Homo sapiens: one gene and its partner. The protein of the gene in region 2 interacts with the protein of the main gene of each other region in a pairwise test. Each region holds a gene or a part of one and is shown on either strand. Other genes may lie near its edges.

Evidence for each region.
Region 1: the proteins of CGB3 (region 2) and SMCP interact in binary tests that used the Homo sapiens proteins (3 or more experiments, as listed by UniProt).

What each region holds. Positions count from the first base shown.
Region 1 is NC_000001.11:152,881,293-152,885,556, reverse strand, and holds the end of SMCP (sperm mitochondrial-associated cysteine-rich protein), read right to left. Parts: intron 1,155-4,264; 5' UTR 1,135-1,154; coding exon 784-1,134; 3' UTR 510-783; downstream 1-509. UniProt on the Homo sapiens protein: Involved in sperm motility. Its absence is associated with genetic background dependent male infertility. Infertility may be due to reduced sperm motility in the female reproductive tract and inability to penetrate the oocyte zona pellucida.
Region 2 is NC_000019.10:49,022,348-49,028,410, reverse strand, and holds CGB3 (choriogonadotropin subunit beta 3 precursor), read left to right. Parts: upstream 1-4,077; 5' UTR 4,078-4,439; coding exon 4,440-4,454; intron 4,455-4,807; coding exon 4,808-4,975; intron 4,976-5,210; coding exon 5,211-5,525; 3' UTR 5,526-5,542; downstream 5,543-6,063. UniProt on the Homo sapiens protein: Beta subunit of the human chorionic gonadotropin (hCG). hCG is a complex glycoprotein composed of two glycosylated subunits alpha and beta which are non-covalently associated.

The DNA of each region.
Region 1 (4,264 bases), on a different chromosome or scaffold from region 2:
TTTACACACGAGGAAATAGAGTGTCAGAAACACTGAACCACTTGCTTTAAGATTGCTACTCTGTGACTGAGGAGCCAGTGCTGATCCTGGAAGATTTCACTCTTTGCCGCTAGCCACTGTGCTTTGCTGAGTCCTGGGGACTCTACCTCCATCTAAAATTTCTGGATGCGGGGGTGGAATCACTCCAAGGGACTTACATATTTTTGCTTGGTCTGGAGTGCAATGTGGTACCCAGGGACCCAGAGGAATTAGGATTCTTGCACTTTGAGTGACCAATAATCTTTTTTTTTTTTTAATAAGGACTGAAGGGGTTCCTGGAATGCAGGACTTTCATTTTAAAACCAAGATGAGTCAGTCAACTACACTCCAGCTCAGCAGAGGTTTTGTTCTTCAGGATGCTAGTTCTTGCTCCTTGGACCTCCAGGACATGCCCATAATATTTTCTTGGGCTCTAGGCCAGGCTGGTGAGATGGTTTCACAAGTAAGTAAAGGAACAAACGGAGGCAATGTTCTTTTTATTGCTCTTTATTTCTGTGCTGTCTAAATGTCAGGATCACTAGGAAAGATGATTCTAGCCTCTTCATCCTCCCATTTCCAGATGGAGGCCTCCCTAGGGTAGGGAGCTATGATGGGAAATAGGAGCCTCTCATTGGGTGGAAATGGTAGTCACTGTGAAAACTGCTTCTCTAAACACAGGTCTAGCCTGACTCTCAGTAATCCCCCACCCTACAAAGTGAAAGGCATGGCCCCAGGGACTTCTTCTTTGTTTGACTTCTTCTGCTCTCATTTGCTTGGCCTGGACTCATTTTGTGGGCTATGGGGCTGCTGCTGGGTTTGACAGCCCTTGTCCTGAGTTTGCGGTGAGTTGGGCTCAGACTCCATGTTAAGGGGTGAGACTTCAGGCTTGGTCTCCAAACCACAGCACCTGGCCTGAATGCAGCATGGGGGTTTTGGCTGGCAGCAGTGATTGTGTTTTGGTGGGCAGCATTGACTGCCTTTTGGCTGGCAGCACTGGTTCTGTTTTGGTGGGCAGCATTGATTGCCTTTTGACTGGCAGCACTGGTTCTGCTGTGGTGGGCAGCATTGATTGCCTTTTGCTGGGCAGCATTTACTGTGTTTTGTCTGGTCACACATCTTCTGAACACTTGGAGGTACTAGAAAAAGAAAATAATATTCTCATCAGAAGGAAATCTGGGTGCCTGCTTTCATTTCCTCCTTTCTTGACACCCAAATACATCCATCTTCAGGATAATGACTCAGACCAGGGTTGAGAAAGCAGAGCTGGATCCCTCAGAGAGGCCAGCCAGCCCCATAATTCTACCTTTGCATATGCCAGTGTGTTTGTTCCTTACTAGGTAGTCATTTGTCAGATAAAGAATCAAAAGACCAGAATATGTAAGCAATGTGAATAAGGTCCCTTAGCTAATGAGCAAACAGTTTGACCCTCAGTCTCCAGATCCTGAGTCAAGTGTCAGGCACTTCACAAACATCAGCTAATGTTATAACGGCTACCAGCCTGAGGTAGACATTTTTAGTCCACTTCACTTCATATGAGGACCACTGAAGTTCAAAAATCCACCTCAGTTGCTTGTAAGTGATTCAAGCCAAGCTCTATCCCACTCCAGAGCATGTGCTTGTTCTTGTCTCTAATGTGGCACCCATGGACCCAGGTGCAATGAAACTCTTGCACTTAGAGTGACCAACTGTCACACGCTTCCTGAATGCATCATTTTGTCCCATGCACGGAGCACTGTGGTGGTTACAGCAAGATGAAATGAAAAGTACAGTGCTCTTGGCATGGCAGGACTTGAGTTCCAGGCCTGGTTCTGCAACTCCCAAGCCTAAGGGATTGTGCAGTTCTCTTCATCTCTCTGGGCTTGTACCTCTTCCTCTATAAAGGGGCAGTGGTGGGGGTGAGGAAGGGGGAACTGGACCTGGTAGGTGTCCTCAAACTCAACCACTCAGCAGTTTTATCATTTCCTGATTCTTCCAGGTATAGAGAAAATCCAAACAACTCTTGCTTTACTTCTATCTACCCATCTTCCTCCTCCCAGGAAGTCCAAGCTCTTCTGGGAACGTCCCTGGGCCTCAGCCCAGGTATGCAGCCCCTGGAGAAGCCCCTAATGGTTTCCGCCCTGGTCCCTCCTATGGCACATGATGAGAGGATGAACGCCACTGTTGTGGTCCCAGAGCAGAATAGAGGGTCTAGAAGTGGCCAGGAAACAGCAGACAGTGAGCAGGTTGTTATCTAGCCTCCTCAAGGAAATGTAGAAGCACGGGAAATGAGCCTGTACCCCCTCTGTGGACTCAGCTCACAAAGCCACAAACCCATGTCAGGGAGGTGCCAGGCCTGTCAGAGCCCTGTCACTGGTAGGGTAGGATGGGTGTGGGATTTGGAGTGACAACTGCTGAGGTGAGGTGGCAACCACCTTCCAGCCTCTGGCATCCTTGGGATTGTGAGAAAAGCCTCTGGCCCAAATTAGTGGTTCTTTGTTTTTGTTTTTGTTTTTTTGAGATGGAGCTTCGCTCTTGTCACCCAGGCTGGAGTGCAATGGTGCGATCTCAGCTCACTGCAACCTCTGCCTCCCAGGTTCAAGCGATTCTCCTGCCTCGGCCTCCGGAGTACCTGAGATTACAGATGCCTACCACCACGCCCAGCAAATTTTTGTATTTTTAGTAGAGATGGGGTTTTGCCATGTTAGCCAGGCTGGTCTCGAACTCCTGACCTCTGGTGATCTGACCACCTCAGCCTCTCAAAGTGCTGGGATTACAGGCGTGAGCCAATGTCCCAGCCCCCAAACTTGTTTTTTAAACTGAGCCAGTTACTGCTGTGGGCTTTCCACTAAGCACACACATGCCCATATCTCTGTGAGAGTGTGTGTGTGTGTGTGTGTGTGCACCTAAGTGCATGTAGGCATGTGTCCATGCATAATTATAGGTACATGGAGAGAAGAACTTGAGGTTTGTGATGATGGCTGTTTAACAAATTGAGATTGCTTGAACTTTCTCATGAGTCTTTACAGTTAGAGCCAGTGTGAATAGCTCCTAGTAGGGGCCAGCCTCTGTCCTGGCCTTCTCTCTCCTGCTGGGTGCTCCCTACTTGCCCTCTATCCTATCCTGACCTGCTGTCAGGCTGCTTCCCCACAGCCCTGCTCCAAACACTCTCCCTGATGTTTAGAAAGCCACATCTCTTGTCTTGTCCTCTTCTTTTGTGTCCTGTAGATAAAGGGACTCCTGGGGACAGTAGCTACAAATCTCTCCTCACATTAAAGTCTTTCTGGGGGAGGGCCGGACACAGTGGCTCACGTCTGTAATCCCAGCACTTTGGGAGGTCGAGGCAGGTGGATCACCTGAGGTCGGGGGTTCAGAACCAGCCTGGCCAACATGGTGAAACCCTGTCTCTACAAAAAATAGAAAAATGGGCATGGTGGCAGGTGCCTGTAATCCCAGATACTTGGGAGACTGAGGCAGGAGAATCGCTTGAACCCAGGAGGTGGAGGTTACAGTGAGCTGAGATCGTGCCATTGCACTCCAGCCTTGGCAAGAAGAGCAAAACTCCATCTCAAAAAATAAAATAAAGTAAAATAAAATAAAATAAAATAATTTCTGGGGGTTACCCCATGATATGGTTTGGCTCTGTGTATGTACCTCACAAAATCTGATGGTTTTATAAGCATCTGACATTTCCCCTGTTCTTACTTCTCTCTCCCACCACTATGTGAAGAAGGTCCTTCCCCTTTGCCTTCTGCCATGATTGTGTTTCCTGAGGCCTTCTCAGACATGTGGAACTGTGAATCGATTAAACTTCTTTCCTTTATAAATTATCCAGTCTTGGGTAGTATCTTTTTTTTTTTTTTTTTTTGAGACGGAGTCTCGCTCTGTCGCCCAGGCCGGACTGCGGACTGCAGTGGCGCAATCTCGGCTCACTGCAAGCTCCGCTTCCCGGGTTCACGCCATTCTCCTGCCTCAGCCTCCCGAGTAGCTGGGACTACAGGCGCCCGCCACCACGCCCGGCTAATTTTTTGTATTTTTAGTAGAGACGGGGTTTCACCTTGTTAGCCAGGATGGTCTCGATCTCCTGACCTCATGATCCACCCGCCTCGGCCTCCCAAAGTGCTGGGATTACAGGCGTGAGCCACCGCGCCCGGCCGGGTAGTATCTTTATAGCAGTGTGGAAATGGACTAATCCACCCCAGTAGGACAAAAATCTGTATCATCCTCTCCTGAAGGTGTGCAGGATTCTCCAGTCAGGTGGTTGCTAAAG
Region 2 (6,063 bases):
CCTTTCCCAGAACCACAGGCTTCCAGAATGTTGTAGGGAAACTGCAAAATCCGCGCCTCCACCAGCCTCTCCCAGCGCCAGGTCAATTTCACACACAGGGAAACTGAAGCCTGCCTCAGAGGGGCAGCGTTTTACCTCCTTAGTGGCAGTTTTGAGGTGAATCGGGGTCTCCCTAGGATTCCAGGTTGTGCACTTTCTCTAAATTGTGGAATGTGGCCAGGCGTGGTGGCTTGAGTCTGTAGTCCCAGCTACTCAGGAGCCACAGCAGGAGGATGGCTTGAGCCCAGGAGTTCAAGTGCAGTGGGGAAACATAGGGAGACCTCGTCTTAAAGCAATTTGTTTGGGGCCAGGCGTGGTTTCTCAGGCCTATAATCCCAGCACTCTGGGAGGCCAGGGCAGGAGTATCACTGGAGGTTGGGAGTTTGAGACCAGTCTGGCCAATGTTGTGAAACTGCATCTCTACTAAAAATACAAAAATTAGCAGGGCACGGTGGCAGGCGCTTGTAATTCCAGTTACTCAGAAGGCTGAGGCAGGAGAGTCACTTGAACCCAGGAGGCAGGCGCTACAGTGAGCCAGGATTGTGCCACTGTACTCCAGCCTGGCCAGACAGAGTGAGGCTCTGTCTCAAAAAAAAAAAAAAAAAAATTGGGCCGGGTGCAGTGGCTCATGCCTGTAATCCCAGCACTTTGGGAGGCCGAGGCAGGCAGATCACAAGGTCAGGAGATCAAGACCATCCTGGCTAACACGGGGAAACCCCGTCTCTACTAAAAAATACAACAAATTAGCCAGGCATAGTGGTGGGTGCCTGTAGTCCCAGCTACTCGGGAGGCTGAGGCAGGAGAGTGGTGTAAACCCGGGAGGTGGACCTGCAGTTAGCCGAGATCGCGCCACTGCAGTCCAGCCTGGGCGACAAGTGAGACACCCCCTCAAAAAAAAATTGATTGGAACATCCTCCAGGGTGCAAGACCCTCGGTTCCTCAGAGTTCTACAGGAAGGATAGCAGAGTGCAGTTGCCCAGAGGTGAAGTCCCATCTCTGCCATTTGTTGGCTGTGTGACCAGGCACAAATCATTAATTTCTCTGAGCCTGTATTTTACCATCTGTTGCTATTGAGTAATAGTAGTTGAATATTTTCTACTTTTATTTTTATTTTATTTTTATTTTTATTTTTTTTGAGACGGAGTCTGGCCCTGTCACCTAGGCTGGAGTGCAGTGGCGCGCTCTCGGCTCACTACACCTCTGCTTCATGGGTCCAAGCGATTCTCCTGCCTCAGCCTCCTGAGTAGCTGGGAGTACAGGTGCGCACCACCATACCCAGCTAATTTTTGTGTTTTTTTTTTAGTAGAGACAGGGATTCACCATGTTGGCCAGGCTGGTCTCAAAGTCTTGACCTCAGGTGATGCACCCACCTCGGCCTCCCAAAGCGCTGGGATTGCAGGCGTGAACCACTGCACCCGGCCGAACATTTTTATCTTTATTTTATGATTATTATTATTATTTTTTTAAGATGGAGCTTTGTTTTTGTTGCCCAAGCTGAAGTGCAATGGCGCGATCTTGGCTCACTGCAACCTCTGCCTCCTGGGATCAAGTGATTCTCCTGCCTTAGCCTCCCAAGTAGCTGGGATTATAAGCATGCAGCACCACGCTGGAGGATATTTTGTATTTTTAGTAGAGGTGCGGTTTCTCTATGTTGGTCAGGCTGGTCTGGAACTCCTCACCTCAGCTGATCCACCCACTGCAGCCTCCGACAATGCTGGCATTACAAGTGTGAGCCACCATGCCCGGCCTTATTTTTATTTTTATTTTTTTTGTGAGACAGAGTCTCACTCTGTTGTCCAGGCGGAAGTGCAGTGGCACCATCTTGGCTCACTGCAATCTCGGCCTCCCGGGTTCAAGCGATTCTCCTGCCTCAGCCTCCTGAGTAGCTGAGACCACAGGCGTGCAGCACCAGGCCTGGCTAATTTTGGTATTATCAGTAGAGATGTTGTTTCACAGTGTTGGCCAGGCTGCTCTCGAACTCCTGACCTCAAGTCATCCACCCGCCTCAGCCTCCCAAAGTGCTGGGATTACAGGTGTGAGCCATAGTGCCTGACCTGTAGTTGTTGAATATTTATTATTAATCTACAAGTTGGGTGTGATGCAAGTCCTATATATGGAGTCCCCCAAACTTCTAGAGCAAGGGCTTCCCCATAATCCTGGCAGGCAGGCCTCCCCTGGGGTTTCCAACTTCTGACCCCACTGAAGTGTTTATCCTCTTCTCTAATCCCAGCCTCCTTTTCCCTGTCTCCATGTGCTCTGAGAGATGCTCTGAGAGATGCTCCCACTCCCCCAGGCTCCCTCCGCATCCCCCTCATTTTCCTCCTCCCCAGTGTGTCAATGGAGTCCTAACCCCATCCTCGACATTGTCGCCTTTTCCTCCTCCAGAGTGGGACCTTCTTTTCCCCCGAGTGGTCCTGTCTAGGGGTGCCGCTGCCGGGCCCCCTCTGGTCTTCCTGCTGGAGACTGGAGCCTTTCGGGAGTCAGCAGGCGCCCGGGCCAACCGCAGCCAGCGAGGGGTGAGCGATACTTCACCGGCGAGTCATCAGGGTGAGCTGGCCGTGTGCGATGCAGTCAGTGTCTGGGTGACAGACCCCTGGACTGCTGTGGACTTGGGTGTGCTCGAGGTGGAGGTGTTGGGCGAGGTGCCTGCAGCTGTCGGCAGTTCCCTCCGCCAGCACTTCTTTGTTGCCCACTTCGAGGCCGATAAATCTGAGGAAGGTGGCCCGGGGGTAGGTGGAGGGGGCTGCCGCCGGGGTGTGGACCGGGGGGCACTGGGTGTCTGAGTGCAAGGCCAAGCAGTCCTATGTGCGGGCATTGACCGCTGATGCCCAGGGCCGTGTGGACTGGCGATGGATTCAAACTGGCACAGCCTGTGTCTGCACACTCCTCAGCCGGACTGGCCGGGCCTGAGACTTATACCCAGGAACTGGTCAGGCAGAAAAAGAACAGAGCTGGATGCTGAGAGACCTCAGGGTTGGCCCAGCTGCTCTACGGACGGACCCCAGTTGGGGAACTCATCAAATCATCACAAAATCACAACTCTCTGAATTTGAGCTCAATCTCTGCAGGATGGGTGCCACCACATGTGGTTTTGAAGGTTGAATAGGAGCTCTCCCAGGGGAACTTGAGGGTAATCATGATGATGATGATGATGATGATAATAATAATAGCCACTATTTACTGAGTGTTTACTCTTTCGTAGCCCTAATACATAACTCCTCGGATCAACTCTCATGGATTTGATCATTGGTGACCTTTGGTGTTAAGTTGCTGACTGCTCAGTCACAGAGGACACCACCTTGCTCATCCTGGGGAGTGGGAGGGCACATTTCACGATGTGCATGGGGGAGGAGGGAAACTGGAACATGCAAGCAGATGGCCAGGGGACCTTGAGGACATGGTCTACAGAAGGCCTTTAAGTATCTGGGAGCTGGGGTTCAAATGAGAAATCTTACTTGGTGAGAGCAGGCAGGGGTTGGCTTAGAATATTCTGTTTTGAGATAAAGAGCTACCGATCACACGGGGAGTATAAGCAAGGTTCAATGAGAAGTGATCAGGATGCTGGAGAGTTCAGCCCTGGGCGGGGAGCTCAAGTCAGGTTTCTAGCCCTCTTCCCTGTGCCAACCTATACCCTACATTGGGAAAGAAACAGACCTTAAAATTGTCCAGCTTGATGGCATCGCGGGGAAGGGACTAAGTCCAGATAATGTCCTCCGAGGCTTCGGCCCCATGGGCAGGACACACCTCCTGCGGGCCTATTCAATAATCAGTTAAATCACCTGAAGCACACGCATTTCCGGGGACAGCTCCGGGCATCCTGGCTTGAGGGTAGGGTGGGCGGAGGTCCCTAAGGGAGAGGTGGGGCTCGGGCTGAATCCCTCGTTGGCGGCACCAGGGTCAAGTGGCTTCCCTGGCAGCACAGTCACGGGGAGGCCCTCTCTCATTGGGCAGAAACTAAGTCCGAAGCCGCGCCCCTCCTGGGAGGTTGGACTGTGGTGCAGGAAAGCCTCAAGTAGAGGAGGGTTGAGGCTTCAGTCCAGCACCTTTCTCGGGTCACGGCCTCCTCCTGGCTCCCAGGACCCCACCATAGGCAGAGGCAGGCCTTCCTACACCCTACTCCCTGTGCCTCCAGCCTCGACTAGTCCCTAGCACTCGACGACTGAGTCTCTGAGGTCACTTCACCGTGGTCTCCGCCTCACCCTTGGCGCTGGACCAGTGAGAGGAGAGGGCTGGGGCGCTCCGCTGAGCCACTCCTGCGCCCCCCTGGCCTTGTCTACCTCTTGCCCCCCGAGGGGTTAGTGTCGAGCTCACCCCAGCATCCTATCACCTCCTGGTGGCCTTGCCGCCCCCACAACCCCGAGGTATAAAGCCAGGTACACGAGGCAGGGGACGCACCAAGGATGGAGATGTTCCAGGTAAGACTGCAGGGCCCCTGGGCACCTTCCACCTCCTTCCAGGCAATCACTGGCATGAGAAGGGGTCAGACCAGTGTGAGCTGTGGAAGGAGGCCTCTTTCTGGAGGAGCGTGACCCCCAGTAAGCTTCAGGTGGGGCATTTCCTGAAGGTGCGGATCTGAAATGTTGGGGTATCTCAGGTCCTCTGGGCTGTGGGGTGGGCTCTGAAAGGCAGGTGTCCGGGTGGTGGGTCCTGAATAGGAGATGCCGGGAAGGGTCTCTGGGTCTTTGTGGGTGGTGTACCACGCGGGATGGGAAGGCCAGGACTCGGGGCTGCGGTCTCAGACCCGGGTGAAGCAGTGTCCTTGTCCCAGGGGCTGCTGCTGTTGCTGCTGCTGAGCATGGGCGGGACATGGGCATCCAAGGAGCCGCTTCGGCCACGGTGCCGCCCCATCAATGCCACCCTGGCTGTGGAGAAGGAGGGCTGCCCCGTGTGCATCACCGTCAACACCACCATCTGTGCCGGCTACTGCCCCACCATGGTGAGCTGCCCGGGGCCGGGGCAGGTGCTGCCACCTCAGGGCCAGACCCACAGAGGCAGCGGGGGAGGAAGGGTGGTCTGCCTCTCTGGTCAGGGGCTGCGGAATGGGGTGTGGGAGGGCAGGAACAGAGGGCTTCCTGGACCCCTGAGTCTGAGACCTGTGGGGGCAGCTGGGGAGCTCAGCTGAGGCGCTGGCCCCAGGCACATGCTCATTCCCCCACTCACACGGCTTCCAGACCCGCGTGCTGCAGGGGGTCCTGCCGGCCCTGCCTCAGGTGGTGTGCAACTACCGCGATGTGCGCTTCGAGTCCATCCGGCTCCCTGGCTGCCCGCGCGGCGTGAACCCCGTGGTCTCCTACGCCGTGGCTCTCAGCTGTCAATGTGCACTCTGCCGCCGCAGCACCACTGACTGCGGGGGTCCCAAGGACCACCCCTTGACCTGTGATGACCCCCGCTTCCAGGACTCCTCTTCCTCAAAGGCCCCTCCCCCCAGCCTTCCAAGCCCATCCCGACTCCCGGGGCCCTCGGACACCCCGATCCTCCCACAATAAAGGCTTCTCAATCCGCACTCTGGAGGTGTCTTTCTGTGGGCTCAGGGCAACCACACACACACAGGATGGGTCCAGCTTCCAAACCATTTTATACAGAGTCACAGTATGAGAACTCTGGTAGAAAACAGTGTGGGGTCGGGGGATGACATCGCAACTTTACTCTACATTGGGAAAGAAACAGACCTTAAAATTTTCCAGCTTGATGGCCAGGTGCGATGGCTGATGCCTGTAATCCCAGCACTTTGAGAGGCCAAGACAGGCGAATCACCTGAGGTTAGGAGTTCAAGACCAGCCTGGTTAACATGGTGAAACCCCGTCTCTACTAAAATTACATAAAGAAATTAGCTGGGCGTGTAGGCGGGTGCCTGTAATCCCAGCTACTCTGGAGGGTGAGGCAGGAGAATCGCTTGAACCCGGGAGGCGGAGGTTGCAGTGAGCGGAGACTGTGCCATTGCACTCCAGCCTGGGCAAAAAGAGGGAAAGTCCGTCTCAAAAAAAAAAAAAAATTGTCCAGTTTGAGTGGGACATGAGGTTCTGA